4 linked regions of the Homo sapiens genome follow. The protein of the gene in region 1 binds, or shares a complex with, the protein of each later gene. Each region holds a gene or a part of one and is shown in the gene's direction. Other genes may lie near its edges. The genes, in order: CACNB1, CACNA1C, CACNG1 and STAC3.

The links.
Region 2: CACNB1 (region 1) and CACNA1C share a complex: the UniProt entries of both Homo sapiens proteins name them as parts of the calcium channel complex.
Region 3: CACNB1 (region 1) and CACNG1 share a complex: the UniProt entries of both Homo sapiens proteins name them as parts of the calcium channel complex.
Region 4: CACNB1 (region 1) and STAC3 share a complex: the UniProt entries of both Homo sapiens proteins name them as parts of the calcium channel complex.

What each region holds. Positions count from the first base shown.
Region 1 is NC_000017.11:39,187,651-39,194,671, reverse strand, and holds part of CACNB1 (voltage-dependent L-type calcium channel subunit beta-1), read left to right. Parts: intron 1-1,174; exon of another isoform or gene 1,175-1,193; coding exon of another isoform or gene 1,194-1,223; intron 1,224-2,577; exon of another isoform or gene 2,578-2,677; coding exon of another isoform or gene 2,678-2,716; intron 2,717-3,078; coding exon 3,079-3,198; intron 3,199-7,021. UniProt on the Homo sapiens protein: Regulatory subunit of L-type calcium channels. Regulates the activity of L-type calcium channels that contain CACNA1A as pore-forming subunit.
Region 2 is NC_000012.12:2,685,973-2,692,993, forward strand, and holds part of CACNA1C (voltage-dependent L-type calcium channel subunit alpha-1C), read left to right. Parts: intron 1-193; coding exon 194-297; intron 298-2,474; coding exon 2,475-2,807; intron 2,808-4,167; exon of another isoform or gene 4,168-4,238; intron 4,239-4,834; exon of another isoform or gene 4,835-4,927; coding exon 4,928-5,227; 3' UTR 5,228-7,021. UniProt on the Homo sapiens protein: Pore-forming, alpha-1C subunit of the voltage-gated calcium channel that gives rise to L-type calcium currents. Mediates influx of calcium ions into the cytoplasm, and thereby triggers calcium release from the sarcoplasm.
Region 3 is NC_000017.11:67,040,296-67,047,574, forward strand, and holds the start of CACNG1 (voltage-dependent calcium channel gamma-1 subunit), read left to right. Parts: upstream 1-4,258; 5' UTR 4,259-4,365; coding exon 4,366-4,594; intron 4,595-7,279. UniProt on the Homo sapiens protein: Regulatory subunit of the voltage-gated calcium channel that gives rise to L-type calcium currents in skeletal muscle. Regulates channel inactivation kinetics.
Region 4 is NC_000012.12:57,248,188-57,255,800, reverse strand, and holds the start of STAC3 (SH3 and cysteine-rich domain-containing protein 3), read left to right. Parts: upstream 1-4,613; 5' UTR 4,614-4,808; intron 4,809-6,070; exon of another isoform or gene 6,071-6,163; 5' UTR 6,164-6,164; coding exon 6,165-6,230; intron 6,231-6,492; coding exon 6,493-6,760; intron 6,761-6,997; coding exon 6,998-7,095; intron 7,096-7,602; coding exon 7,603-7,613. Other genes in the region: R3HDM2 (R3H domain-containing protein 2), read left to right, coding at 688-1,028. UniProt on the Homo sapiens protein: Required for normal excitation-contraction coupling in skeletal muscle and for normal muscle contraction in response to membrane depolarization. Required for normal Ca(2+) release from the sarcplasmic reticulum, which ultimately leads to muscle contraction.

The sequences.
Region 1 (7,021 bases):
CCCAGCACCAGGCACCCTCCCCTGCTGCCTGCTGGCCTGCGTCATCTCATTCAGGGACAGCCTGGCCTGCCTCCCTCCAGCTTGCTTCGGGCTGTCACCCACTCCCCCTGCCGGCTGTCTGCTTCCATGTCCTCCCCCAGAATCTGTGACAGGGTTGGGTGGAGGCAGGTCCTAGGAAAAGCAGAGCAAGGATGTTTGGGTCCCTGTAGTCCTGGTGAGGTCCTGGCCAGGGAAACACGCTCCTCACCTCGAGACATGACTGTCTAAGAAGCACAGAGAAAGGGTGATGGTGACGGGGGTGGGGGTGGTTGAGGCATGAGGCTGTTGATTTTATAATAGAGAAGATGATAGCCCAGCACCCCTGCCTGAAAGGGTGTAACTGAGAATAGCTTTCTGGGGTCTTCTGTGCTCAGTCAGTAAGCGGCTGCTCTCATCTGTCAACCCTGGGCCATCTTAGGCTCAGGGTGAGGGACTGAGAGAGGCATGTGGTTGCTATGACTACTTAGCATCTCACCAAAGCCTGGTACCCAAAAAAGGCGAGAGGGGCTTGGGATTAGACAAGGAAAAGGCGTGTATTGAAGAGGAAATGGGCAGGGCATTTGAGGGCAGAAGACAGCACAGAGGAGGGGTCCTCTGGAGATGAGCCCCTCCCTTCCACCTTGGGCCAGGAGCGAGGGTGATGCCAGGCAGATCCACCACTAATTAGAGTGAGGCCCTTCTTTCCGTTTCTTCTGTCTCTACAGCACTTGGCACATGTGAGCCTCAGTCTGACTTGGGAGGTTCAGGAAGGGGAGGCTTCATTCTAGCCTTTTCTAAGTATAGGAACAGACAGGAAGTCCTTTCTTCAATCACCCCCTCATCCCTCCTGTTGCAGGACATGGCCAGGGCTGGGAAGAATGACGCTGTGCTTTTATTGCCCCTCTTGGCAGAAAAGGACCTTGGCTCCTTCAGTGTTTGCCAACCCAGGGAGTCAGACCCCAGCCTCCAATTCTTCCTCCTTTTAGCTCCCCAGCTCTGATCCCCGGTAGGTGGTGGGGAGTGGTGGAGGGGGGCAGTCCTTGCCACATCTCTGAGCTAAATATACCCTAGCAGTCTGCACATGTAGCAACTCTGCTTGTAACCCGAGCCCCCAAGGGAACGGGCAGTTTGGGCCACCCCCTAGGCCAGCAGGGCCAGGCACTGAGGGTGCCGGGATGGAGGCGCCCAGCCGGACCGTGGTGGTGGTGAGCTGGGGATGGAGTGGGGTGGCAGCGGGTAGAACAGCCTCTCAGGAAAGCTGACGGAGGGCAGCCTTTACTCCAGCGTGTCTCCATGCCTCCTCACTGTTTCCTGTCTTCTGCCATTTCTGATGTGTGCGTGTGTATGCGCGTACATGTGTCTGCATATGTGTGTGTATGTGTGCGCATGCCTACATGTGTGTCTGTGTGCACCTGTGTGTCTGCATATGTGTGTGTGTCTGCCCGCACATGTGCGTCTGCATGTGTGTCTGTGTGTGTGCATGTAACTGTGTGTGTATGTGTACACGTGCGCGTGCCTGCATGTGTGTTGGGGTCAGTGAGTGTGTGCGCGCGTATGCCTGCATTTGTGTTGGGGTTGGTGAGTGTGTGTGTGCACGCGCATGCCCGCGTGTGTGTTGGGGTCGGTGAGTGCCTCTCTGCTAGTCTGTCTCCCTGTCTGTTTCCCTGGCTCTTTGACTCTGCGTGCTCCCATCAGGGGGGAGAGGGGGAGCTACGCTGGTTTTCTCTCCTTCTCTCCTTCATGCCTCTTTCCCCACTTCTGTTAGTGACCCCCGCTCCACCCCAACCCTTCCTCCGCGGGTCTCCCATTTTCATTATTTGTCTGGGAAAGAGATGGGCAGCTGCACCAGCTAATGACCTGAGGCCCCTGGGGAGAGGTGGGACTTTGTTTCTGTCTTTCCCAGGTCCCCTCCATGCCAAACTTATGGACCTTCCTGGCCAAGTGACCCTTTTCTGCCCTCAGGAAAGAACCCCTACATCCCTGCAGTCCTCCTCTTTTGCCACATAACCTCCTATGCCTTGTCCAACACCACCCCTGCATAGTCACACAAATCCACACCTCTTGCCTCCTGCCCTCACATGTCCCCCAACCTCAGGGTCACAGATGTCTGGGAGCTCCCCCCCAGTACACTCACATGTGGCTGTACACACACAGTCATATGCAGCCAACTATAGAGCACACCCTCCTCCACACACTTGTACTTGCACATCCACACACACACATGAAGAAGCACGTGCATTCCCACTACCAGGTCTGTACGGGCAACATGTGTCTTACACATATGTGTGCATCCCTAAAGGAGTCCCTTGTGCTCTGGGTTGGTCATTGTGGTCAAAGCCAGCTGTCTGGCACCCAGCAGCCCTCATTTCAGGGAAAGCCCTGTCCCATATCCTGCTCTTAACTTGCCTCTTCGGTCTGTACCAGCCTGGAACTCTTGGGTTCTCTTGTGTCCTAGGAGAGCCTGAGGACTGGGGCTGTAAGTAGTGAAGTTTGATTCTGGCAGTACCAGTTAAGAGGAGCAGGGGAGGTAGGAGTCTGTCTCCCTCTACCCTTGAACAGAAGCTGGCAAAATCTGTGGTGGCCCCATCCTGCGGAGCAGGCCGTCCACGGCTGATAGTGCAGAGAGCTCAGGCCGAAGCTGGTGGCTGCAGTCCCTGGAATGGATGCCACTGGACCTCAGCTGAGTCTATCTCAGCGGGTGCTGGGGGCAGGGGAGGGAAGGAGCAGTGGGAGTAGAGACTCGTCCCTGGCATTCCTCCCTTGCCTTGTGCCCCTATCAGGTTCCCACCCCTCCCTGGGCCCCAAGCAGCTGTCCTTGGGCCTGCCTTCATCTCCTGCTTGCTGCTGTCACCCTCACTAGGGCCACACTTTCCCCAGGGGCCTGAGAAATCTCAGCTCCTGGTCCCTTCCACCTAATACCACCTTGTCTTAGCCCTTGTGGTGTCATGCTGGGCTGGCTGGGGCTCGAGGCATCCATGATGGGTGGCACCTCCATGCCTTCCCAGGCCCAGGAGCTGGGAGGGGCAGCAATGGCCCTGATCTGGCTCTCTCTATTTTCAGGGCTCAGCGGAGTCCTACACCAGCCGTCCATCAGACTCTGATGTATCTCTGGAGGAGGACCGGGAAGCCTTAAGGAAGGAAGCAGAGCGCCAGGCATTAGCGCAGCTCGAGAAGGCCAAGGTGAGAAAGATGTGGGGAGGGGCTGTGCTGGCATGATTTCCCCCAGTCCTGGGCTGTAGAGAGAGCCCAGACAGAACCAGGGCCAAGTCTTGACCCAGCCACTTCCTAGTACCCCTGAACCTTGCTCCTCTGTCCTTCACCTGCACAATGTGGGCTATAATACCTGCCTGCTTATACAGTATAATAAGTATAATAAGTGCGTGTTATTATACTGTTTCCACACATAATAAGGGCTTGATAAGTGCTAAAAATTTCTTTTTTTTGTTTTTTGAGTTGCAGTCTTGCTCTGTCACCCAGGCTGGAGTGCAGTGGCATGATCTCGGCTCACTGCAAGCTCCGCCTCCCGGGTTCACGCCATTCTCCTGCCTCAGCCTCCCAAGTAGCCGGGACTATAGGCTCTGGCTGCCACGCCCGGCTAATTTTTTGTATTTTTAGTAGAGACGGGGTTTCACCATGTTAGCCAGGATGGTCTCGATCTCCTGACCTTGTGATCCGCCCCCCTCAGCCTCCCAAAGTGCTGGGATTACAGGCGTGAGCCACCGTGCCTGACCTGGTCCTGACTCTTAATAGCTGTGTGATCTTAGGAAAGTCACATTAAAAGGAAGATAATAATACCACTTAACTTCAGAGGATTTTTTATTTTTGTGATGAATATAAATGAGAGAATATGTGTTAAGTGTGTAACATGGTACCTGGAACACTAAATGGTCATTACTGTCATTATTGTTTTTTTTAATTTAATTTTAGGCCAGGTGCTGTGGCTCACGCCTGTAATCCCAGCACTTTGGGAGGCCCGGTTGGGCGGATCACTTGAGGTCAGGAGTTCGAGACCAGCTTGGGCAATGTGGTGAAACCCCGTCTCTACTAAAAATACAAAACGTAGCTGGGTGTGGTGGTGTACGCCTGTAATCCCAATTACTCGGGAGGCTGAGGCACCAGAATCGCTTGAACTAAGGAGGCGGAGGCTGGAGTGAGCTGAGATCGCACCACTGCACTCCGGCCTGGGTGACAGAGCGAGACTCTGTCTCAAAAAACATAATAATAAATAAATTTAAATATTTATTATTTTTTATGAGACAGGGTCTCTCTCTGTCACTCAGGCTGAGTGTAGCGGCGTGATCACAGCTCACTGGAGCCTTGACCTCCCATCTCAGCCTCCCGAGTACCTGGAACTATAGAGGCATACCACCACACCTGGCTGATTTTTTATTTTTTGTAGAGATGGGATCTTGCTATGTTGCCCAGGCTGGTCTTGAACTCCTGGGTGCAAGTGATCCTCCTGCCTCGGCCTCCCAAAGTGCTAGGATTACAGGCATGGGCCACTGTGCCCAGCCCCTTTTATTTATTTATTTATTTTTGAGATGGAGTCTTGCACTGCCGCCCAGGCTGGGGTACAGTGGTGCGATCTCGGCTCACTGCAGCCTCCGCCTTCCAGGTTCAAGCGATTCTCCTTGCCTCAGCCTCCCAAGTAGCTGGGATTATAGGCGCCCGCCACCATGCCCGGCTAATTTTTTTTTGTATTTTTAGTAGAGATGGGGTTTCACCATGTTGGCCAGGCTGGTCTCAGAACTCCTGACCTGGTGATCTGCCTGCCTCGGCCTCCCAAAGTGCTAGGATTACAGGCGTAAGCCACTGTGCCCAGCTGCCCCTTTTATTTTTTAAAAACCGACAGGGCTGGCTGGGTGCGGTGGCTCACGCCTGTAATCCCGGCACTTTGGGAGGCTGAGGTGGGTGGATCACCTGAGGTCGGGCATTTGAGACCAGCCTGACCAACATGGTGAAACCCCATCTCTACTAAAAATACAAAACTAGCCAGGTGTGATGGCGCATGCCTGTAATCCCAGCTACTTGGGAGGCTGAGGCAGGAGAATTGCTTGAACCAAGGAGGCAGAGGTTGCAGTGAGCCAAGATTGCGCCATTGCACTCCACCATGGGCAACAAGAGCGAAACTCCATCTCAAAACAAAACAAAACAAAACAGACAGGATCTCCCTATATTGCTCAGGCTGGTCTCAGACTCCTTCCCTCAAGCCAGTATTGGGATTACAGGTGTGAGCCACTGTGCCTGGCTGCTATTATTATTATTATTATTATTTTATTTTATTTTATTTTGAGACGGAGTCTTGCTCCATCACCCAAGCTGGAGTGCAATGGCACGATCTTGGCTTGCTGCAACCTCTGCCTCCTAGATTCAAGTGATTCTCCTGCCTCAGCCTCCTGAGTAGCTGGGATTACAGGTGCGTGCCACCACGCCCAGCTAATTTTTATATTTTTAGTAGAGACGGGGTTTCACCATGTTAGCCAGGCTGGTCTCGAACTCCTGACTTCATGATCCACCCACCTTAGCCTTTCAAAGTGCTGGGATTACAGGCATGAGCCATTGCGCCCGGCCTATAACTATTATTTAATTAATTTATTTTGTTTTGTTTTTGAGACGGAGTTTCGCTCTTGTTGCCCGGGCTGGAGTGCAGTGGCACCATCTCAGCTCACTGCAACCTCCACCTCCCAGATTCAAGTGTTTCTCCTGCCTCAGCCTCCCAAGTAGCCAAGATTACAGGCATGTGCCACCACACCATGCTAATTTTGTATTTTTAGTAGAGACAGAGTTTCACCATGTTAGTCATGGCTGGTCTCGAACTTTTGACCTCAAGTGATCCACCTGCCTTGCCCTCCCAAAGTGCTGGGATTACAGCAGTGAGCCACCGTGCCCGGCCTGCTATTATTATTATTTTTTCTGGGTATCATTGTGGGCTTCCCCACCCCCAACCCTTTTCATTCCTGAGTGCCCCGCCTCTACCCTGAGAGGGCTGAATTCCACATTTTGCTTTCTTGTTTTTTATTGTAAAAGTTAATATACATGGAGAAAACCACACAAGCCAATTCAGTATACATTTTTTTTTTTTGACGGAGTCTCACTCTGTCATCCATGCTGGAGTATAGTGGCATGATCTCGGCTCACTGCAACTCTGCTGCCCTGGTTGAAGTAATTCTCCTGCCTCAGCCTTCCAAGTAACTGGGATTACAGGCATCTGCCACTGCGCCCAGCTAATTTTTGTATTTTTAGTAGCGACAGGGTTTCACCATCTTGGCTAGGCTGGTCTTGAACTCCTGACCTCATGAATCCACCTGCCTCTGCCTCCCAAAATGCTGGGATTACAGGCGTGAGCCACCACGCCCAGACTTTTTTTTTTTTAGACAGAGTCTTGCTCCGTCATCCAGGCTGGAGTGCAGTGGTGCCATCTTGGCTCACTGCAACTTCTGCCTCCTGAATTCAAATGATTCTCATGCCTCAGCCCCCTGAGTAGCTGGGATTACAGGTGTGTGCCACCATGCCCAGCTAATTTTTTTGTATTTTTAGTAGAGGCAGAGTTTCACCATGTTGGCCAGGCTGGTCTCAAACGATCCACCTGCCTTGGCCTCCCAAAGTGTCAGTATACATTTTGTTGTTGTTGTTGTTGTTTTGAAATGGAGTCTTGCCCTGTTGCCCAGGCTTGAGTGCAGTGACACAATCTTGGCTCACTGCAACCTCCACCTTCCAGGTTCAAGCAACTCTCCTGCCTCAGCCTCCTGAGTAGCTGGGATTATAGGCACCCACCACCACGCCTGGCTAATTTTGTATTTTTAGTAGAGACGGGGTTTCACCATGTTGTTCAGGCTGGTCTCGGACTCCTGACCTCAGATGATCCACGTACCTTGGCCTCCCAACGTGCTGGAAATACAGGTGTGAGCCACCACACCCTGCCCATGTCCATACACATTTCAAGGAACTATTATAAAGTAAACATCCAAGTAACCACCACTACTGTCAGGAAGTTGTACATTAC
Region 2 (7,021 bases), on another chromosome or scaffold:
GAGACAACATTCCAAAGGCAGGGTGTGCAGGGATGAGCCCTGGACACCAGAATACGTCTCAGACGAGGGGAGGGGAAAGGAGGAGCGTCTCGGGCCATAGTTACTGCTCCTGGCACCCCACCAGGGTGTAAACTGTCACAGGCCAGTGCCCTGTTTTCCTGCCCTGATGGTGGCTCTCTGGCTGGCTTTGCAGGTCGAAGGGCCTCCTTCCACCTGGAATGTCTGAAGCGACAGAAGGACCGAGGGGGAGACATCTCTCAGAAGACAGTCCTGCCCTTGCATCTGGTTCATCATCAGGTAGCTCACACTTTTGGACAGGCCACTGTCACCTGCCAGCAGGCCAGACAGTCCCCAGGGTGACGGACAAATCCTGAAGACTTCAGTGGGTCTTGCCTGTCTCAGATGGCTGGCACGTCCTGCCCCTGCCCTAAGAGCCATCCCTGTAGGGCTTCACACTCCTGTGCAGGTGAGGGCCACGGCAAGGTCTGCAGCATCGCAGGTGGGGGCCTAGGAAGTGCTGGTGCACAGGAGCTCTTTGTGTGATCCTGAGGACCCACAGCTGCAGGTTCCACCTGAGCTTTCTTCTTAGGCTGCCACAGATGCCACTGACGCCTCTGACACTGGCCTATGCCTCAGGGCACTCAGGAAGATGTACTTGTACCTAGAGTTTGAATATACCTGGAAATTTTGCCACACAAAAATCCATCCAGTGACATAAAGAAGTGATTAAAGAACCCACCAGCAACATGGTCAAGAGTAGGGAATGACATCCGTGGGAAGCAGGTCCAGGGAGATTCCATAAATGAAATGTCTCTTGGCATGGCTGACTCCAGCTGAGACAGTGAAATCCAAGATGCCAGGACCAAACATGCCTTAGTATCTTTGAACTTCAGTGTTATCTAAGGCCAGTCTATTAACCCCAGGCAAACTGAGGTCTAAACCTGGGTTTCCCAACATTCTGACCTTATTAAAGTTATACTCTTTTATAGCATGGACCTATGTTTTAAATAGACCTATGCTTTGTACCCAAAGGCATTCAACTGCCAATCAAAAGTCATAATCAGCATGAGATGGCCAGTGTGGCCTGGCTGAGTTGATAGTACTTCAGCTCCAAAAAATAAACAGGTTTTCTTAGCCTGTGTGGTGTTGTCTTCCACTGGGCTTTCTGAAATAATGAATATGGCCTTACACTTTTCTCAGATTCCCAGGGACCCAGGAGCCCCAGGCTGAGGACCACCATGGGCAGGGGCAGGAGGTGGAAGGATGTGGGGACACTGTGTGTGCTATCTTAAAAGATTTCTAGAAGTCGATTTCACCTATCTGTTCTTGTCGTACTGGTAGGCACGAAACTCTCCTCTTCATCTCTTTCTCCTCCTGTACTCTGTGACCCTAGAGGTGGTCTTTCCCCACCACAGTGTCGCTCTCTCCCGGGAGCACATCCCATCAGAGCAGCTCACCCTGCAGAGCCTCTGCCCTGGCAGGTTGTCATGGCAACAGCCAGACAGGCCTGGTCCCTACCCTCAGGATGCTCAAGAATATTCAGGGACAGAGGGCGTACCGTGTGACTTTTTTTTTTTTTTTTTTGAGACAGAGTTTTGCTCTTGTTGCCCAGGCTGGAGTGCAATGGCACGATCTCGGCTCACCACAACCTCCACCTCCCGGGTTCAAGTGATTCTCCTGCCTCAGCCTCCCAAGTAGCTGGGATTACAGGCATGCACCACCATGCCTGGCTAATTTTGCATTTGTAGTAGAGACTGGGTTACTCCGTGTTGGTCAGGCTGGTCTTGAACTCCCGACCTCAGGTGATCTGCCCGCCTTGGCCTCCCAAAGTCCTGGGATTACAGGCATGAGCCACTGCTCCCAGCCCTGAATCTTTTAATCACAATACAGCACCGGATTTAACAATGGCTCAAAGACAACCTGAGCTAGAGACTGGCAGGGCATTATGAATGGCCCCATTAACTGTGAGAACTAAAACCACAAATACTGGTTTTCCCAACTCTTTGTGAGGTGCACAGCGCTTCTTCACAGACCTCATTGCGCTTGAGCCTCACACCAGCCCCACAGGGCAGATGGATAGACAGCATTCGTTTTCTGGCTTTACAGACATGCAGGCCTCACCCTGCTCTCCATTCTATTGAGGACAAAACCAAGAGCGAGAGAATGCACAGCTGACAGGTGACCAGGCCAGGGCTAAAAGCAGGTTACCACGACTTCACCCAATCCCAGCTTTCAGAAGTTACAGGAGAAAGAGATCACTTCAGACCCAGATGATCCTAAGATGTATTTTGAGATAGTTGAAAGTCATGCCAGGTTGAGATAGGACCGACAGGGGAAAATAATGGCATGGGAATACCAGGCAGGTGGAGCTAGCTGGACACAGCAGCTGCAAAGCAGTGCTTGCTCAGAAGCAGGGGCCTGCCTTGTTTGGGGTCGGCCACTCCTATTAACTCACACTCCTTGTGTGTCCGCAGGCATTGGCAGTGGCAGGCCTGAGCCCCCTCCTCCAGAGAAGCCATTCCCCTGCCTCATTCCCTAGGCCTTTTGCCACCCCACCAGCCACACCTGGCAGCCGAGGCTGGCCCCCACAGCCCGTCCCCACCCTGCGGCTTGAGGGGGTCGAGTCCAGTGAGAAACTCAACAGCAGCTTCCCATCCATCCACTGCGGCTCCTGGGCTGAGACCACCCCCGGTGGCGGGGGCAGCAGCGCCGCCCGGAGAGTCCGGCCCGTCTCCCTCATGGTGCCCAGCCAGGCTGGGGCCCCAGGGAGGCAGTTCCACGGCAGTGCCAGCAGCCTGGTGGAAGCGGTAGGTGACTCGCAGATGGGCAGGGGGGAGAGGCCACGGGCAACAAGGGGACTTGGCATGCGGGGCTGAGAAGGGAGCACCTGGCTCTTGCCAAATTCATTGCAGTCAATATCTGAGCCCGAAAGACCCTCCCTCTCAGGGCTGCAGGAGGGCTCGTGTGCGGAAAGCCATGACTGCACAAGATGCTATGGGCTCTCTTGAGGCTGGGCCCACTGCAGAGGGCGGCAGAAACCACTGAGCAACTTATCCCTTATACTGCAGCTGCTCGACATGCAAATGTGAGCCTGGCTGCCTTTATACACAGACAGGCAAGATCCAAGGTGCTCAGGCCTGACTGCCCGTGAGCATCACCTGGGGAGCTTTGGAAACCCGGGACAGATTAACTGATGATTGTTAAAGCTCTTCGATGATTTTAACGTGTAGCAAGGTTGAGAGCCACTAGCCTAGAACAAGCGAGCTTTCAGTCCCACTGTGCTCTGCCTGGTCAGAGCATCTAGTGCAATCCCGGCACCACATTATTAGGGACCTTTGACACACTGGAACAAACCCAACAGAGGATGACCAGGATGGCAAGGTTCCTAGAAACCATTTCCTAGGAGAACCGTTTCAGGGAATTCGGGAAGAAAACCTGGAGAGGAGGTGACTTTGGAGGGTGCGATACACCTCTCACACCTGCAACGGGTGGGATGGGGAAAGGGTGGCAGGCTCAGCCCACCAGCGGACAGATTTCAGCTCACATGGGGAAGACCTTCCCAAATGAGCTCTTCCAAGATGAGAGGGGCTTGCCTGAAAGGTAGTGAGCCCCCCATCATCAGACATAGCCAAGCAGAGACTGTGCTCATCCGGGCGTCAGGCTGTGGTGCAGGAGGTGGGGCGTTAAACCAGGTGGCTTCCAAGGTTTACCTCTCAAAGTCTGGTATTCCTGTGGCCTCGATCATCCTGCATTCATTTCACAGACCTTCCCTGAGCGCCTACCATGTGCAGGCCCTGTTCTAGGTACAGGGACACAGCTGAGAAACAGAGCTTCTGCTCTCATGAGCTCACATCATGGTGAGGAGAGACAGATAATAAACACATACATATATAACACATCAGGAAGGTCAGGAGTGCCAAAGAAAAACTAAGCAGGGCAAGGAGAGAATGAGTGGCGTGGGCAAGGAGCAAGACAAACAGATGCCTGAAAGGAGCGAGTGCCAGGCTGCACTCAGCTTCCCCCGACCCGCTGGCTCAGGAGCCGATTTTCCCATAGCCAGGCACTAAGCAGCCGGTAGGGAGGACAGAGAAGCTTAAGGGTCACCTGCTGGCCCTTCCCAGCAGAAGCAAGGCAGGGGCATGCGCCGTGTTTGCACAGATACCTCACCCCTGGAAAGGCAGCAGCAGGCAATGGGCAGTGGGCCTGTCTCAGCAGTTTCACCAGGGAGAATGGTTTCTCTGAAAGAATAGTATAAAGGTTCAGTGGGTGTCAGAAAGGAGAGAGGCAGGCTGGGATCTGCTGATACAGCATCAGGGCAACCCCCCGGCCCCTCTGAGAGCCAAACCTTCTCTGGTTTTTGTTTTGGTTGTTTTTTGAGACAGGGTCTCGCTCTGTCACCCAGGCTGGAGTGTAGTGGTACAATCACAGCTCAGTGCAGCCTGGCGCTGCTGGGGTCAAATGATCCTCCCACCTCAGTCTCTGGCCTTGCTAAGATCACAGGTGTGCATCACCACACCCAGCTAATTATTCTTAAATTTTTTGTAGAGACGAAGTTTCCCTGTGTTGCCTGGGCCTGGTCTCGAACTCCTGGGCTCAAGCAGTCCTTCTGCCTGGGCTTCCCAAAGTGCTGGGTGACAGGTGTGAGCCACCGTGCTGGGCCATAAGCAAGTCTTCATATATTTGATGACAGTGTTTGACCACCCCAGCCAAAACTTCTCTGGCCTGCACATCCCTAATTCTGGCAGATGCTCCATCTCCACTTGTTCCCCATGGGTGCCCCTCCCAACACACACACGTACACGTGCACACACGCACACTTCCCCAAGTGACCTACCAGATACCCCCTCGCTCTAGCCCTCAAGGGAAGAGCTGGGCTCCAGGAGTAATGTTCCTTTGGTTCTTCATGGCTCCCACCCCGCTCCTTCAGGTCTTGATTTCAGAAGGACTGGGGCAGTTTGCTCAAGATCCCAAGTTCATCGAGGTCACCACCCAGGAGCTGGCCGACGCCTGCGACATGACCATAGAGGAGATGGAGAGCGCGGCCGACAACATCCTCAGCGGGGGCGCCCCACAGAGCCCCAATGGCGCCCTCTTACCCTTTGTGAACTGCAGGGACGCGGGGCAGGACCGAGCCGGGGGCGAAGAGGACGCGGGCTGTGTGCGCGCGCGGGGTCGACCGAGTGAGGAGGAGCTCCAGGACAGCAGGGTCTACGTCAGCAGCCTGTAGTGGGCGCTGCCAGATGCGGGCTTTTTTTTATTTGTTTCAATGTTCCTAATGGGTTCGTTTCAGAAGTGCCTCACTGTTCTCGTGACCTGGAGTTAACCGGAACAGCGTCTTCATTCATTTCTGTTGGGACCAGACGCGGAGCCTGGGTGCGCGAGCCGCCCTCCGGGAGGAAGGCGCCCGGCTGCGTCTGCAGAGGCGGGGAGAGGAGGCGGCGAGGGTCCCGGGGCGCGAGGAAGGCGCCTGCCCTCTCCCAGCTCGCAGGCCCCGGGCCCGGCCGCGCCTCCGCGGGGAGAGCACCCCGGCTTCCCGCGCGCCCTCACCAAAAGGACCCTACAGCAAACGGGTGTCTTTCGACTCTGCTTGTAGAAACCATTTGCACATATTCTGTACGAGCCTCGCTGTCTCCCTAGAGCCAGGGCCCTGCGGATTTGGAGAAGGGAGCGGGGCAGGACTTCCAGGAGGACCCCAACCCGGCCCGGAGAGGGAGGAGGAGGCCTCCAGGGGCGCGGAGCTCTGGGGATGGGCGTCGGGCCGGCAGTGGTGCGGCTCACTCCGTCCCTGCCCACCTGCGACGGGATCCCCCGACCGGCACGGGCCACGCCGAGCTCCCGGCCAGCCGCCGGCCCGCAGGCAGCGCGAGGGAGGAGCTGCGCCGCCGGCTCCGCCCAACCAGGTGGTGCTGAGCTTCCGCTGAGCGCTCTTTTGTTTTGTGGTTTGACACTTTTCTTGACAGCATGTTGCAGTTTCTTTTCGGTTTTGGTTTTTTTTAAATGTTTTATTTTGCTTTCCCAGCGGGAGGGGAGGAAGAAGAGTGTTTACAAAGTCCTGTAGCCCCCTCACCTTTCTGTTTTCACTTTTGCCAATGTACATCGGGTTTGGTTTTCTTGTATTATTTAAACGGTTGTGGTTTCCTTTTTCCACGGAGGTTCAATAGAAGCCGCTGCAGGAGAGTTTTACCAACCATTGTGTATGCCCAATAATTTGTTATCATTTCCTTAGGTAGTAACCTATTTTTGTTCTGGTTTGGTTCGGTTATCTAATGGAAAGGTAACTGGCAATGCACTTGATGTGGTCTTGCACATGTGGGTGATAGAGTTGGGTTCCTTTTTATGCTGGGTGTACAGGTGGGTTTGGGAGAGAGGAGCATGCGCGAGAGAGTCTCCGAGTGTGTGCGACGCGTGTGTGTGTGGTGGGTTGTCTGTGTGCATATGTCCTGCCCGTGTATATGCACCCACACCATGTGCCCGTGCACACCAGTGACTACGCAGTCCCCCCTTTCTGGTTTAGCTGTGGGAAGATCTGAATCTGGGGCCGTTTGAAAGCAAAAACAAACCACTGTCTCTGCTTCTGAAACGGGAATCAGTAACTCTTTGCATTTTCTGTCCCACAAGATATGCAAAAACAATGCAATAATATTCATTTAAAAATACAATTGTGAGTTGTGTTGGCATTAAAACTGTATTTTAAAAAAAGACAGAAATTTAAGGGAAAAACACAAGAAGGCATTTTGCTTCAATATATTCCGTGTAATGTTTTATTGCATTGATAATGTTTCTGTTGAAGAAACCGTTATACTTGAATTCAGGTCAGTTTCAGTATTTTTCAAATATTTTTTTAAAACTGAATTGCAATTGTGCCAAGCGAATATAATGAATTGAATTAAGTTGGTTTTCGGATTCACTTCTTGTATATTTTGCTGCATGTAAAGTAAATCATTTTGTATTTGGAGTGTGACAAGCTTTACCTTTGAACTCAAGTGCTTTTCTATATGTGGTTGGGGGAAAGGGAACAAGT
Region 3 (7,279 bases), about 28 Mb from region 1:
TGATAGCACATGCCTATAATTCCAGCTACTTGAGAAGCTGAGGCAGGAGAATTGCTTGAACCCTGGAGGCGGAGATTGCAGTGAGCTGCGATCACACCACTGCACTCCAGCCTGGGTGACAGAGGGAGACTGCATCTCAAAAAAAGAAACATAAAAGTCTTTAAATCACGGGCTGCCTGCTCTCCTCCTGCAGGGGTGTACAGGGCGCACTTTGAGAACCCCAGCTGCGGGCTCAAGTCTCCCGAGGGGCCCATGTCCTGCCTGGAGCTCCTATTCTCCACACCTCTCCACGTAGGCTGAGTTCTGTCCCAGGAGACCCCACAGCCCCTCCCAGTATGATCTCAGCTGCCCTAACAGTTTGTGGACTCCTCAAGGGGAGGGAGTGGGTCTTCTGCTTGGCAGGACAGAAATCCCAGCGTGGGCCTTATTGTGCCCCAACTTAACTATGGCCCAAGCCCTGGCTGGCCTGTATGTTCTGGAGTCCTCAGGAGGGTCCTGGATCAATGGGGAGGGAAATGGCCACCGTGGCAGGGCAGCCAGAAAAAGCTGCCAGAAGTGGAGGCTAGCAGAGGGGGGTTGCGAAACAAAGGGAGTTGGACTGGTGCAGATAGGATAAAAACATCTCAGGGGTACAAGTAAGCATCAACATCTGGAGAACAGAACAGGAAAGAGCCCCCCAAATTTCCCACAACACTGTGAGTACCAGGCATCCAGGGCGATTGATTTCTTACCATTACGTCCTTCGCTGAATCAAGTACTCAGTACTCTATTAAATGCATGACGGCCACTCTCTGGTCTCCTCTTATGAGAACACTGCTACAGTTGGGCTCTGTGTCCCCATCCAAATCTCACCTTGAATTGTAATAATTCTGTGTCATGGGAAGGACCCAGTAGGAGGTAATTGAATCATGAGGGTGAGTCTTTCCTCTGCTATTCTCACGATAGTGAATAAATCTCACAAGATCTGATGGTTTTATAAAGGGCAGTTCCCTGCACGTGCTCTCTTGCCTAACGCCATGTAAGACGTGCCTTTGCTCCTTCTTCACCTTCCGCCATGATTGTGAGGCCTCCCCAGCCATGTGGAACTGTGAGTCCATTCAACCTCTTTCCTTTATAAATTACCAGTCTTGGGCATGTCTTTATTAGCAGTGTGAGAACAGACTAATACAGACACTGCTCCCATCACAAGGGCCCCACTTCCATGAGCTCATTTCATTATCTCCCAAAGATCCCACCTCTACACACCATCACACTGGGGGTTAGGCTTCAACATATGAACTTGGGGGAAACATGATTCAGCCCATAGCGCCTACTATGGCTAAGCTGGTCCAACGCACTCCCTCCAGCCCTTCCACCTGCTCCGCAGCCAGGCCCGTTGCCTTCATTTTACAAGAGGCAGCTTAGAAAGGCTAATGACTTACTGGAACGTGCACAGCTGGAGCCAAGCAGTGCAGGGATTTGCTCGGGGCTGGCCAGCTCCATCACCCTCTAGCTTGGTCCCCCTCTCGCATGCTGCCTCCCTGAGATGCTCCTCTCCCTGTTGCCCTGGAAAGGGTGAGATCTTGGGGGAGGACATGGATGTTGCCCTGCCCAACTTTCAGCAAATGCCTGTGGCTACTGAAGTCCCTTCCTGGCCCTTCCAGGCCCCTGGGGAACCAGGCAGGCAGCGCGGCAGCACCTCTGTGAGCAGAAAAGGTGTATTTGAGGGAGCTTTCAGTAAACAGGGAAGAGAAAGTGGACCTGCCCGCAGTAGCTGCAGCTGCGGGTCTCCTGGTGCGACTTACACAAAGATGACTTCAAAAGGCAGAGGCCATCAATCTTTAATGCTTTCACTGCACTGGGGCGGAGGACTCTGGACCCCTGCATGGGGCACAAACCTGCCCCCCATGGAGGGAAAGAGCAGCAGAAGTTCCTGGTTGCTGTCCTCACCAAGGCCTGGCATCTTTGAAGGGCCTGCAATGTCATCATGGCTGGCGCTGGGTGCACCCTCTGGGCTGGGCCCTTTCAGGGTGCTTTCCAAGGCCGTCAGAGGCTCTTGGCACCGAAGAGCTTAGGGCATCCACCCCCACCACACCAGGAAATTCAAAAGACACTTTCATTTTTCCAATGACACTGTATTTACTTGTAATGCTAAAATTAAATAGCTTCTTTCTAGATTTTCTGTCTTAAAACACTGGAACCCTCTTCTGGCTCCCCAGCTACTGCTTTGCTGGGTGCCTGGCACTCAGTAGGTCTAATCAAGCTGTACAGCACCTCCTGAGATCCCCAGGTGCCAGGATCCTGAAGCTGGGCCCCCACAAACAACAAGAGAGGGCTCAGAGGCTGCAGCCATGTCCCAGCTTCTGGGAATTCCCCATGGAGATGGTCTACCCACCTGGTGACAGGCAGTTTCTCCACGAGCTGAAGCAGGGGCGGTGGCATATGTCAACAGTCAGTCAGTGATCAGTCAGTTGTGATGGATTAGCACCCACAGGGAACACAGAGGTGGGGGGACAGGGAGGAAGGGAAGCAGAGATGAGAACAGTGGGGAGATAAGCTCTCAGGAGATTGTAATATGTATGAGAGACTGATTTTAAAAATATGGAAGTTTGGATGGAACTGCAATAAGCACAAGCCAGTGGCTGGAGATGCGAGGGTTCAGCTCAGCCCTGGGGCTGTTCACCAGGTAGTCCTGGCTCCTCACATCTCCTCTCTGGGCTGCAGATTCCTAATCTGTCACAATAGATCATGAAGTTTCTTCCCAGTTCCAACCATTCGTTATGACTTTGGGCTCTGGGTCCTGAAACCTGGATTCCTCATTTTCTCGCTGTGTGACCTTGGACAAGTGACTTCATGTCTCTGAGCTTCCATGTCCTTGTCTGTGAAATGGCAGTAACCGTTGTAGTCCCCTTGTGGATTGGTGTGAAGAGTAACTGTGACAATGGATGAAGGCTTAGCAGGGTACCTGGTAGATAGTAAGCACTCACTGAAGATGAGCCACTGTTCTGATTATCATCATCATGAACTTTCTGTGATTCTAAGGCTGGAGGCCGAAACATTTCTGTCCACATGGGCAGAGTCTCTGTAAATCGTGTCAATCTGAGGCCAGGATTTTGAAGCTCAAGGCCCCACCCAGCTCAGGAGGCTATTCCTGGTCATGCGTCAGCCTCTCGGCTACACCCAAAAAGGGCCACCCTGTGAGCCGAGAAGGAAGAGATGACACAACCCAGGAGAGATGTAGAGGCTGGAGCCTCGGAGACCAGCCTGGGGGCCAGGCGGGTGCACAGGACCGTCGGAGGGTGGTCGATCCCGGGCTTTCTGTGTTCTCTGCACGCCCATGAGCTCCTAATGATCCCCTATAAATCAACCTATTCATTCTTTTTTACTCACACACTTATTTTTCAAATTCAAACATAACTGGAAAGTCGTTATCACCTGCTGTTAATAGAAGGCAAAACCAAACAGTGCCCTGAAAAACAGAATGACCAAGTCCAGCAGGATTCCTCGTCCTCTTCGGGCCGTTCTCGCTTTGTTTCAAAGGACACTTTACAGGCAATAATGACACTGACCTCGAACAGAGCTTTGCTCTGGACCCAGTTTTGGGGATGGAAAGAGAATTGAAAAGGAAGTAATGTTCTCGTGGAGGGATCAGAGTTGGGTAAGGCCAGACCTGGGAACCACCTAAAACCTTCCTATGGTTTGGGGGATGCCGTGGGGTTTGTGGCTAAAACGCTTGCCTAAGAGGTGGACTCCACAGGCCCTGGACTGGGTTCCCGGGATGTCATTAGACAGAATCCTAGCCCCTCAGATCCCAGGATGAGAACCTACTCACTGCCCTGCCGGTAACAGGCTTACCCCGTGGGAGCCCGGGACAGCCGTGCAGCCCGCAGCTCCTGGTCTCCTCCCCTGGCCTGGGCTGCCCTTTCCCATCAGCCCAGAGCAGGCAGATCCCCACCCCCGGGGCCCTGCTGCCCACCTCTCGCCCTCTCCCAACTCAGGCACCCTGAGCTGCTACTCACAGAGGCCTCAATCTACCATCCAGAGCCTTCTCTCCTTGCCACCCTGCCCCGCCGCACTGGGGTATTTCTGGCTCCCAGAGGGGCAGAAAACCCTGAAACCCGAGCAGAAGCTGTCCTCGGTGCCACGCCTGGAGATGGGCATTAATAGCAGCCTCCCTCAGGCCCCTGACGCGTCTGGGCAGCTGCTCAGCACGTCCCGCGTCCCTCGGCCCCAAGGCCAGCCCACTCTGGCTCAGCCAGGCACACTAAACTTAGTGGCCACTCCCAGCTCGACAACCACTGCCACCCCCCAAGCTCGGCTTGTCACCTGCCCTAGGAGACGCAGCCGCCGGACCCTGCCCAGGGCACCCACGCCTCGGCGACCACCATGTCCCAGACCAAAATGCTGAAGGTCCGCGTGACCCTCTTCTGCATCCTGGCAGGCATCGTGCTGGCCATGACAGCCGTGGTAACCGACCACTGGGCTGTGCTGAGCCCCCACATGGAGCACCACAACACTACCTGCGAGGCGGCCCACTTCGGCCTCTGGCGGATTTGTACCAAGCGCATCCCCATGGACGACAGCAAGACCTGCGGGCCCATCACCCTGCCCGGGGGTAACGTACCCACCCTCCGTCCCGATCCCCACCTCCTGCTCTTCCCCGTCATCCCCCTGGCAAAGTTGCCCTTGCGAAGGAAGGCAGGTTTCTCTGCCTAGAAATAGGGCAGCCGCCCAGCCTTTTCTGCCCAGGGAAGAAGATATGAATTGCATGTGTGGTGCTGGTGGCTGGGGCTGGGTTGTAAGACGAGGGCGTTTGTCCCAGCTATTTCTGTCTGGCTGGACCTTGGGGCTTTTTGCCCAGAGCAGAGAGCTGGGCAGGCTCAAGAAAGGAACTGCAGCTCTACCAGCCCAGGGACTTCTGGGCCCCACCTGCTCACTCTCTCCCTGCAAAGAAAAGCTAGGTGGCTCTGTGTCCTCAGGCTAGGGGGACCCATGGGGCTGGCAGGTTTGTTCCTGGCCTCAAGGCAGGAGAGGAGAGAGCATAGGCGATGGAATTTGCAGGGTCCTGTGCAGAATGAAAATGCAGGGTTCCTTGCTCCAAATTACCAAGGATTTCAAGGCAGTGACAGCAGCACATGAAACCACACATGGGCCCTTGTGGGCTCTGGGCCTGGAGCAGCTGCACAGGTTGAATGTCTGTGAAGCAGGACATGGCTGTAGGCTGTAGGTGAGCCACCTGCCCCCACCTTCTTTTTTTTTTTTTTTTTTTTTTTGAGACAACTTTGTCGCTCAGGCTGGAGTGCAGTGGCATGATCTTGGCTCCCTGCAACTTCTGCCTCCTGGACTCAAGCGATTCTCCTGCCTCAGCTTCCCCAGTAGCTGGGATTACAGGCATGCACCACCACACCCATCTAATTTTTGTACTTTCAGTAGAGACGGGGTTTCACCATGTTGGTCAGGCTGGTCTCGAACTCCTGACCTCAGGTGATCCACCTGCCTTGGCCTCCCAGAGTGCTGGGATTACAGACGTGAGCCACCATGCCCGACCTCCACCTGTCCTTTTGTCAGGACTTCAGTCCTCTATGCATCCTGTCTTAGCTCAGACCCTGTCAGAGTTACAAAGCATTTCCTCACCCTGTAATTTAAGCGTATTCCTCGATTTCCTACCGTGTGACCGAACCACACGTTGAAGGTAAGGTCCTTTTCAGGAGTACCTGGTAGTCGCGTGACTAGCCTCTATTCTGCAAATGCAGAGGCTTCTGGATTCTTAGCAAATACAGCACTTTAGAGGAAAGAGTGCTCATGGAGACCAGGCAGCCAGGGATCTAATCGCCATTGCCCACTACCCTCAAATGACCATCCAGGGAGGACAAAGCTCATCTCAGCCTCTGCTTCTTCCTCTATAAAATATGGGACTGACTCTCAGCAACGTGAGATCCCTTCCTCGGCTTACAGACGCCCATCCACAGTGGCAGTGGAGCAGAGTGATGTCAGTGTGATGTCCCACCTGGTTTTCAGGATTATTTCCTCTTTTATCAGACTAGGTGTTCCTTGAAACCTGTCCTTCAAGGACACTAGGGCTAAGTCCCCAAAGATCTTGCAGTCTGCTTGTGAGGCAAAGAGCACAGACCCCATCCTCCCTTGTCTCTGCTCCCTCTTCCTTCCCTCCTGCTTGCTCCAGAGATCCCCTCCCTTGTTCAGCCCCACTGGAGGCCCAGAAGACTCATAAGTGCCCAGCTGTTGTAGAAACACCAAGTCCCAGGGCTGAGAGTGACAGGTGTGGCCATGTGCTTGCAGGGTATCGCATAGCCCGGATGCCCATGCCCCTTGGCCACTGCTGAGCACACCCATAAACAGGAACAGCCTCCAGCCAACTCCCCTGGGCAGGGCAGGGCAGGGCAGGGCAGGGCAAGGCAGCTTCTTCAGGGACCACACATGGGGACGTGCTGTTACAGTCCTGTTCACCCGTCCTTGGAACCATCTGCCTTTTAAAGTCAGAGCAGAAGACTGGGCAGTGAGCAGAATCCACACAAGGAAGAGACAGGCTGGTGAGAGGTGACTGGACCAATTGCAGGGGGCCAACAGGCATTGCTTGGCCTTGAGCCTGACAGGATCTACCTCTTTGCCTTCTTAGCCTAACCAGCTATGAACCACACCTCCCACACTTGTGACACTGAGCACTACCTTTCCCCCAGTAATCTTCCAAAATATGTTCCTGCCTTTTTCCCTCTCTTTTCTCTGCAAATGGACATCTTTCTCCTTCCCCATCTGCCCTTCTTGTGCTCCCTGGGACCACTCTTCTCTGGAGGGAGGAAGTGGGTTCATATGTGGCCCGTCATCTATTATTAACAACAATAATAATAATGGCACATACATGTAGCCCTGTGTGCCAAATATTGTTGTAAACGCTTTACATATATTAACTTTGAAAGACATCAGGAAAAAAAATGATAGAAAAAGAACCTCCAAAAATAATCTTCTCCATAATAGTAATGAGAAGGCTGGCAGAAATGGTCAGAATCAACATTTTCAGAACTCTGGAAATTAACCAAAGTCTTGCAGCAATCCAGCAAGAAAAATGGGTGAATCTCAGGAGGACCAGTGAGTTCTGTGGTGTTTTAACTTGCCTTATTCCTGTTTCCCTTTCCCAGCTCTGTGGTAACCTTGCAAACCAACATTCCGTAATCACAGTGAAAATCAGCATCCCAGTAGCCTCTGGAGGGGAGAGAATGGGGTTGGATCAAAGGCCCATTCCCAGAGAGTTGTCATTATTTGACCTGTCTGGTGATTCCCTGAAAAC
Region 4 (7,613 bases), on another chromosome or scaffold:
GAGGAAGATCATGGTAAAAAGTGGGAATAACACAATTATGGGAGTTGCCTCTTATTAACAAAGAGTTTTCTAATTAGTGTCCTGTCCCTAATCTACGACATCTACCTTTGGTAGTCCTAGACCCAGTTTAGGAGAAGATTGGTAGAGAATATGGGGGAGAAACTCTCGTCCTACAAGCCTCCCACTAGGTGAACAAGATCTGTCTTGGGATTTGGAGCAATTTCCTAAACAAGGAAAGGAAGGGAAACTTGACTTCCTGAGATGATAAGAAGGAAGAATCTATTTGAGCCAGCCTCTGAGTGGGAAGGGAACTATGGAACATATTTCAGATTGATACATTATTGTTAAAGAACATTAGCAAAAGCCACATTTTCTTCATAGCAGTAGCACCTTGTGAGAGAACTGAGGTATAGGTTCTTAGCTCAGAAACCCAGGATTCTGATTCCCTGTCCCTTCTTTCCTGTATCTCTGGGCTAGGAGAATAGAAAGGTTCATTTGTTTTTCTCCTAGTTGCCCTGATCAGAGCTGGGATGGTGGGGAGGGGAAGAAAGGGCTAAGAGAGAAAGGCCAGGCTTTTGAAGACATTGTATACAGACTTAGTCAGCTGGACACTTCTCTGCTGGGCTGCTGTCAAGTCCTTCCTGTCCTATTCCTCTCACAACCATGTCCTCTCTCCTCCCCTTCCAGTCCTGGGGCGGGTGCTGGAGGTGACAGATCTCCCTGAGGGCATCACCCGTACTGAGGCGGACAAACTCTTCACGCAGCTCGCCATGTCTGGCGCCAAGATCCAGTGGCTCAAGGATGCTCAGGGGCTGCCTGGAGGGGGTGGGGGGGACAACAGTGGGACTGCTGAGAATGGCCGCCACTCGGACCTCGCTGCCTTGTACACCATTGTGGCTGTGTTCCCCAGCCCCCTGGCTGCCCAAAATGCCTCCCTTCGTCTCAACAACTCCGTGAGTCGCTTCAAACTTCGAATGGCCAAAAAGAACTATGACCTGAGGATCCTGGAGCGAGCCAGCTCCCAATAAATGGAGGAGGGGAAAGGGACTGTCACAGAAGGAGCAAGGGCAGGGTGGAGGGGGTTGAAGGATCCTGACAGACCATGGACAGAGGCAGGAAGTAAGGAAACTGATGTTAAACTGGAACCTAAGACAGTGATGAAGATGGAAACACAGATACCTACACTGGCATTGGACTCCTTCTTGCTCCCCTGCCATGGGTCCTCTCTTTTTCCCTGGTTGACCCCCCTTGCATCACTCTTCTTCCCATCCTCTTCTTTTTTTTTTTTTTTTTTTTTTTGAGACGGAGTTTCGCTCTTGTCACCCCAGCTGGAGTGCAGTAGCACGATCTTGGCTAACTGCAACCTCCAGCTCCTGGGTTCAGGTGATTCTCCTGCCTCAGCCTCCCAAGTAGCTGGCACTACAGACACGCGCCACCATGCCCGGCTAATTTTTGTATTTTTAGTAGAGACGGAGTTTCACCATGTTGGCCAGGCTGGCCTCAAACTCCTGACCTCAGGTGATCCACCTGCCTTGGCCTTCCAGAGTGCTGGGATTACAGGCGTGAGCCACTGTGCCTGGCTTCCATCCTCTTCTATCATTTTTTTAAATCTCTTCTCCTATCATAAAATTAATTTCTCATTTTTTGGTCAGGTAGAATTGGGAAAGTCCCACACTGTCCTCCTATTACCTTAACATCCCAAGCTTCCTTTCCTTTTTTGGTCTTTATGAATATATTTATATGGACAGAATTAAGATAAACAAAATTGATTGCCCCATTCTCTCACTTCCCCATCTTGTCTTCCTAGACCCCACAGAGTTAAAACTTGGGATTCCCCTGGCCCCCCCAGAACACTTGTATATTGTTTGTTTGAGGTTCGTGCCGCAGTAACAGACACAGTATTTAATTGCACATACAGATGTTTGCTGGGTATATTCACTGTAAATTTTATTTAATCTGTTTTTTTGTTTGTTTGGGGGTTATTTGGGGGGAGGTTGGTTTTGTTTTTAAATATAAAAAAAAAAATCTGTCACTGGACATCAGTCACTGTTTCTCTGTTGCCGCCCTGGTATGGGTAAAGGGTTGGAGGCCCTGGGTAGGTATAGCCCTACAGCTGTTGGAGGTGTTTGTCGTGGGTTGGGATGGCTTTCTCTAGCATACGCACACTATTTTAACACCATTCCCTCTGTCTCATCCTCTTCCCTGTACACGGTTCTGATAGATGGCTAGATCTCTAATGGGACCATGGCTTTGGGCTCTCCCGGTTCTGCCACTGTGGTTCATCGAGCATATCACTTCTCAACTCTGGATCTGTGTCCAGATCAGTAAAATAAGAGACTTGGACTTAGTAGGTGACCTCTAGGTTTCCTTCCAGACTATTAATTCTGTGGTACTGTGTACTCATTTAGGGCCCTTGTAGTTGAGTTTTGAGATAGGGTCTTGCTCTGTCACCCAGGCTGGAGTGCAGTGGCAGATCTCAGCTGACTGCAGCCGCCTCCCGTGTTCAAGCGATTCTTGTGCCTCAGTCTCCCGAGTAGCTGGGATTACAGGCGCGATCTAGCATGCCTGGCTAATCTTTTTTTTTTTTTTTTTTGCTATTTTTGGCAGAGACAGGGTTTTACCATGTTGCCCAGGCTGGTCTTGAACTCCTGGGCTCAAGTGATCTCCCGCCTTGGCCTCCTAAAGTGCTGGGATTACAGGCATGAGCCACCACTCCCAGCCCAGCTCGTCTTCTGAAAACCCTTTAGGGATGGAGAACTTGGGCCTTTCTTTTTTTTTTTTTTTTGAGATGGAGTCTCGCCCTGTTGCCCAGGCTGGAGTGCAGTGGCGCGATATCTCGGCTCACTGCAACCTCCACCTCCCGAGTTCAAGCAGTTCTCCTGCCTCAGCCTCCTGAGTAGCTGTGCCCCATCGTGCCCAGCTAATTTTTGTATTTTTAGTTGACATGGGGTTTCACCATGTTGGCCAGGCTGGTCTCGAACTCCTGACCTTGTGATCCACCCGCCTCGGCCTTCCAAAGTGCTGTGATTACAGGCGTGAGCCACCGTGCCTGGCTGCCTTTCTTTAATCCTAAAGCTGGAGGATTGGGTTTTACCTGTCAGGGACAGAAGCAGATTTTTATTACAATGAAAGCTACAGCAACTGAACTCGCAGTGCCAAGATGCTGTATTATCCAAACATGCTCAGCAGTCCCTGTCCTATGTGGCTGAAAAAAGACGAAGAGCAGAAGTCATCTTGCCTGCAAGATGGAGCTTTTCCTTTAGAGCATCTCAAAGCAAGCCCTGTTGTTCTGCAGCCTGTCAGAGCAGGGCCATTAAAGAACCTGCAGAGTCAGAACCATCCTGCACCCCCTTTTCAAACTCCCCCCTTAAATAGAAAAAAGTAGTGGGTGAGAATGACAAAGCACGTTGCCCTGGAAATCTCTTGGGTCCAAGTAGCTGTATCCCTAACGACGATCCTACAGGAGCTTGCCTGACCCAGTCTCCAACACAGTCCTTTATTTCTTACAGATACAAGGAATAGAGCAGCACTGCATTGCCACCTCTAAATTGCTCTCCCCTGAGATGGGAGTATCTCCTCTTTCATCCATGTCACAGCCCAAAGAGTAGAAGGGTGCACCCCTGTGAGATGAGAATGGCATCTGTCTCTTTGATCCATCAGTTATATACTGAGGCATCAAAGGTGGGAGATGGAATCAGGGAATCAAAAGGGTTTAGGAAGTGTGAGGGTTGGCCATCCTACCTTTAAGAGTTTGCAGTTCTCATGAGGAAGGGGACATTACTTAGAAATGATTTAAAAAATTCCTTATGTGGCAGCTATATGCTTCTGTCCAGTGTTAACTGGCCCTTTTTAATAGCCCTGGTAATTCCCTTCAGTCTGAGGACAAAATTTTACAAGAAGGAGGGTGGGGAGATGTCTCTGGGAGCTGCTGGAGGGAATGAAGCAATACTACATATTCTTCACTTTCTTACAGGATAGCAAAGTACTCCTCCAACCACCTACAGATAAAAAGCAATCTAGCCATGCACGGTGGCTCACACCTGTAATCCTAGCACTTTGGGAGGCCAAGGCAGGCGGATCACCTGAGGTCAGGGGTTCGAGACCAGCCTGGCCAACATGGTGAAACCCCATCTGTACTAAAAATACAAAAATTACCTTGGCGTGGTGGTGGGCGCCTGTAATCCCAGCTACTTAGGAGGCTGAGGCAGGAGAATCGCTTGAACCTGGGAGGTTGCAGTGAGCCCGGATCGCTTCATTGCACTCCAGCCTGGGCAACAAGAGCAAGACTCTGTCTCAAAAAAAAAAAAAAAAAAGCCATCTAGTATGGCTGATAGGAGAGCTCTATGAGTTCAAATTAGTCTTTTTTTACCCTGTCTCAAAAAATAAATGAAAAATAAAAATAAACTCCCCTTAAATGTTAAATGAGCATGAACAGAAACTGTCCCTTCCTGAATTCAGCCATTATTCACCTGTTCGCCTTAGATGAAGAATCAAGGAACAGCAGCTCTAGGGGGTTGGGAGGAGTTAGGGTCCGGCCCTGCCCCAGACCTCTCAGTGTCCAATTTCTCTGTGTCAGCTGTGTTTCTCAGCTGTCCACTTTCCTCCAGCCCTGTCATTTCAGCCCTGACACCAAGGCAGGAGGCTAGGAGGTCTACAAATAGCGACTGGGTAGCTGGTGTGAACACAGGGGGTACTGGGGGGGCTTAGCCCCCAAGGAAGAGGACCAGTTTTTCCCCAGCACCACCATCAAGGCCTCGAGGCTCCCAGCTCCCTCTACAGCCTGTGGACTGACTTAGGGAATCCCGAACGTAAGTTACCTCTTCATCCTCTTGATTTCCACGACTGCTCACCCCAGCTGCCCTGATCTATAATCTACTCAGCTTCTTCATTTCTCTCCTTGTCTGTGAGTCTTTTGGGTTTTAGGCGTAAAATTATTATTCTACTCTAGGATGAGTTTGGATTGAAGCGGGGGGTGGGGGTGGGGGTGGGGTGAAGGGAATGAAGTAGTAAGGGAAGGAAAGGCTCATATTACCCTGAAAACTTAAAATAGCTGAGCCCTGAGGCAGGCTGGGACAGAACTAGGCACAGGGCCCCCAGGGCTCAAGAAAAAAGTAGGGGAGGACAAATGTCTCCAGTCCATCCTTCCTTGTGTGCACACGAGGACACACATTAAACCTCTTGAAGAGAGGAGATCTGGGAAGGTATGCATCACATCTCTGTTGCCCACAGATTTCCAGGAGAAACAAAGTACCTATAGGAAAATGACGTAAACCACGCAGCTTTGAACACTGTGTAAGGGCTGTAAACTATGGGGTCGCCCCTCAGGATGGAAGGATGAGTATCAGTTTGAGGAACTAATTGGGAAGCTCTTTAGTCTGTTGGGCTTTTTTTTTTTTTTTTTTTTTTTTTTTGAGACGAAGTCTTGCTCTGTCACCCAGGCTGGAGGGCAGTGGCACAATCCCGGCTCACTGCAACCTCCGCCTCCCGGGTTCAAGCGATTATCCTTCCTCAGCTTCCTGAGTGGATGGGATTACAGGCGTCCGCCACCACACCCGGCTAATTTTTATATATTTAGTAGAGATGGGGTTTCACCATGTTGGCCAGGCTAGTCTTGAACTCCTGATCTCTAGTGATCCGCCTGCCTCAGCCTCCCAAAGTGCTGGGATTACAGGCATGCACCACCACACCCGGCCATGTTAAGCTTTTTTCTAGACCTCCATGAAATCTGTTAATAAAACCTGCCAAAGGATCTGTATTTGGCCCAGTGCAGTGGCTCACGCCTGTCTCAACAATTTGGGAGGTTGAAACAGGAAGATTGCTTGAGCTAGTTCGGGACCAGCCTAGGCAACAAAGCAAGACCATGTCTCTACAAAAAATAAAAAAGTAGCCAGGTAGTGTGCACCTTGTGTTCCAGCTACTCAGGAAGCTGAGGTAGGGGGATCGCTTCAGGCTGGGAGGTCGAGGCTGCAGTGAGCCATGATCACGCCACTGCACTCCAGCCTGGGTGACAGAGTGAGACCCCATCTCAACAGTAACAACAGCAAAATCTCTCATCACATTTCTCCGAAAGCCTCCCCTTTGAGGACCACCCTACTGCAAGGGACAGAAAGGGAGAGAAGAATGAAAGGGATTAGATTTCATAGTGGGGTCCAACCTCTTGCAGGATGACAGAAAAGGAGGTGCTGGAGTCCCCTAAGCCCTCCTTCCCAGCAGAGACTCGGCAAAGTGGGGTGAGTCTGGGCCTCTGACCACTGGGTGTGGGGGGCTGGGAAGCCATTACAGCTGAAGAAGAGTGCTTAAATTGATCTCATTTGTGTGTGACTCATTTTTTGCTGGCCAGCACCTGCAGTCCCCAATACCAATACCCCCCTAATCCTGGGGTACATTCCTTGCCTGAAACTAGAAAACTGTCTAGTTTGCTCTAGCGCCCCCCTACTCTAGAGAGGGTGACAAGTCCTTTTAACATTGGGTTTTCTTCACTCCCTCCCTCAGCTACAGCGGCTAAAGCAGTTACTCAGGAAGGGTTCTACAGGGACAAAGGAGATGGAACTTCCCCCAGAGCCCCAGGCCAATGGGGAGGCAGTGGGAGCTGGGGGTGGGCCCATCTACTACATCTATGAGGAAGAGGAAGAGGAAGAAGAGGAGGAGGAGGAGCCACCCCCAGAACCTCCTAAGCTGGTCAACGATAAGCCCCACAAATTCAAAGATCACTTCTTCAAGAAGCCAAAGTTCTGTGATGTCTGTGCCCGGATGATTGTTCGTGAGTCATGAAGGGAAGTGAAGAGAGTATGATATTGAAGGCAGAGGTTTGGGGAGAGGGCATAGGAGAGGAGTATTTGTAGCAGATGGGCTGTGGCTAGAGTTGGTGTAAGGCAATGCTATTAGAGATTGAGCAAGTAGGGTCCCAGACAGAAAAGGAAACCTAAGAGTAGCAGCAGTGGTACAAAGGGAAAGGGCAATCTGGAACCTTATCTGAATTTTCTCCCCCTTTCCCAAGTCAACAACAAGTTTGGGCTTCGCTGTAAGAACTGCAAAACCAACATCCATGAACACTGTCAGTCCTATGTGGAAATGCAGAGATGCTTCGGCAAGATCGTGAGTAGGCTGTGGAGAGCAAGGAGGGGACATGGCCACGCGTGGTGGCTCACGCCTGTAATCCCAGCACTTTGGGAGGCTGAGGTGGGCGGATCACGAGGTCAGGAGATCGAGACCATCCTGGCTAACACAGTGAAACCCCGTCTCTAAATACAAAAAATTAGCCGGGCGTGGTGACAGGTGCCTGTAGTCCCAGCTACTCAGGAGGCTGAGGCAGGAGAATGGCGTAAACTCGGGAGGCGGAGCTTGCAGTGAGCCGAGATTGTGCCACTGCACTCCAGCCTGGGTGACAGAGCGAGACTCCGTCTCAAAAAAAAAAAAAAAAAAAGAGGGGACATGTCACCAGCCAGCTACCCCTTGCTGGTCTCTCCTCCATCCCATTCATTTCTCTGCTTTTTCTTTCTCAGCCCATCTCTTTTTCTGAGAAAGGGTGAGCACTCCTGGGAGAGATAGGCTTCTGGACCTTACTTTGCTACCTCTAATGCTTCCTCTCATCCCATCCTACAGCCACCTGGTTT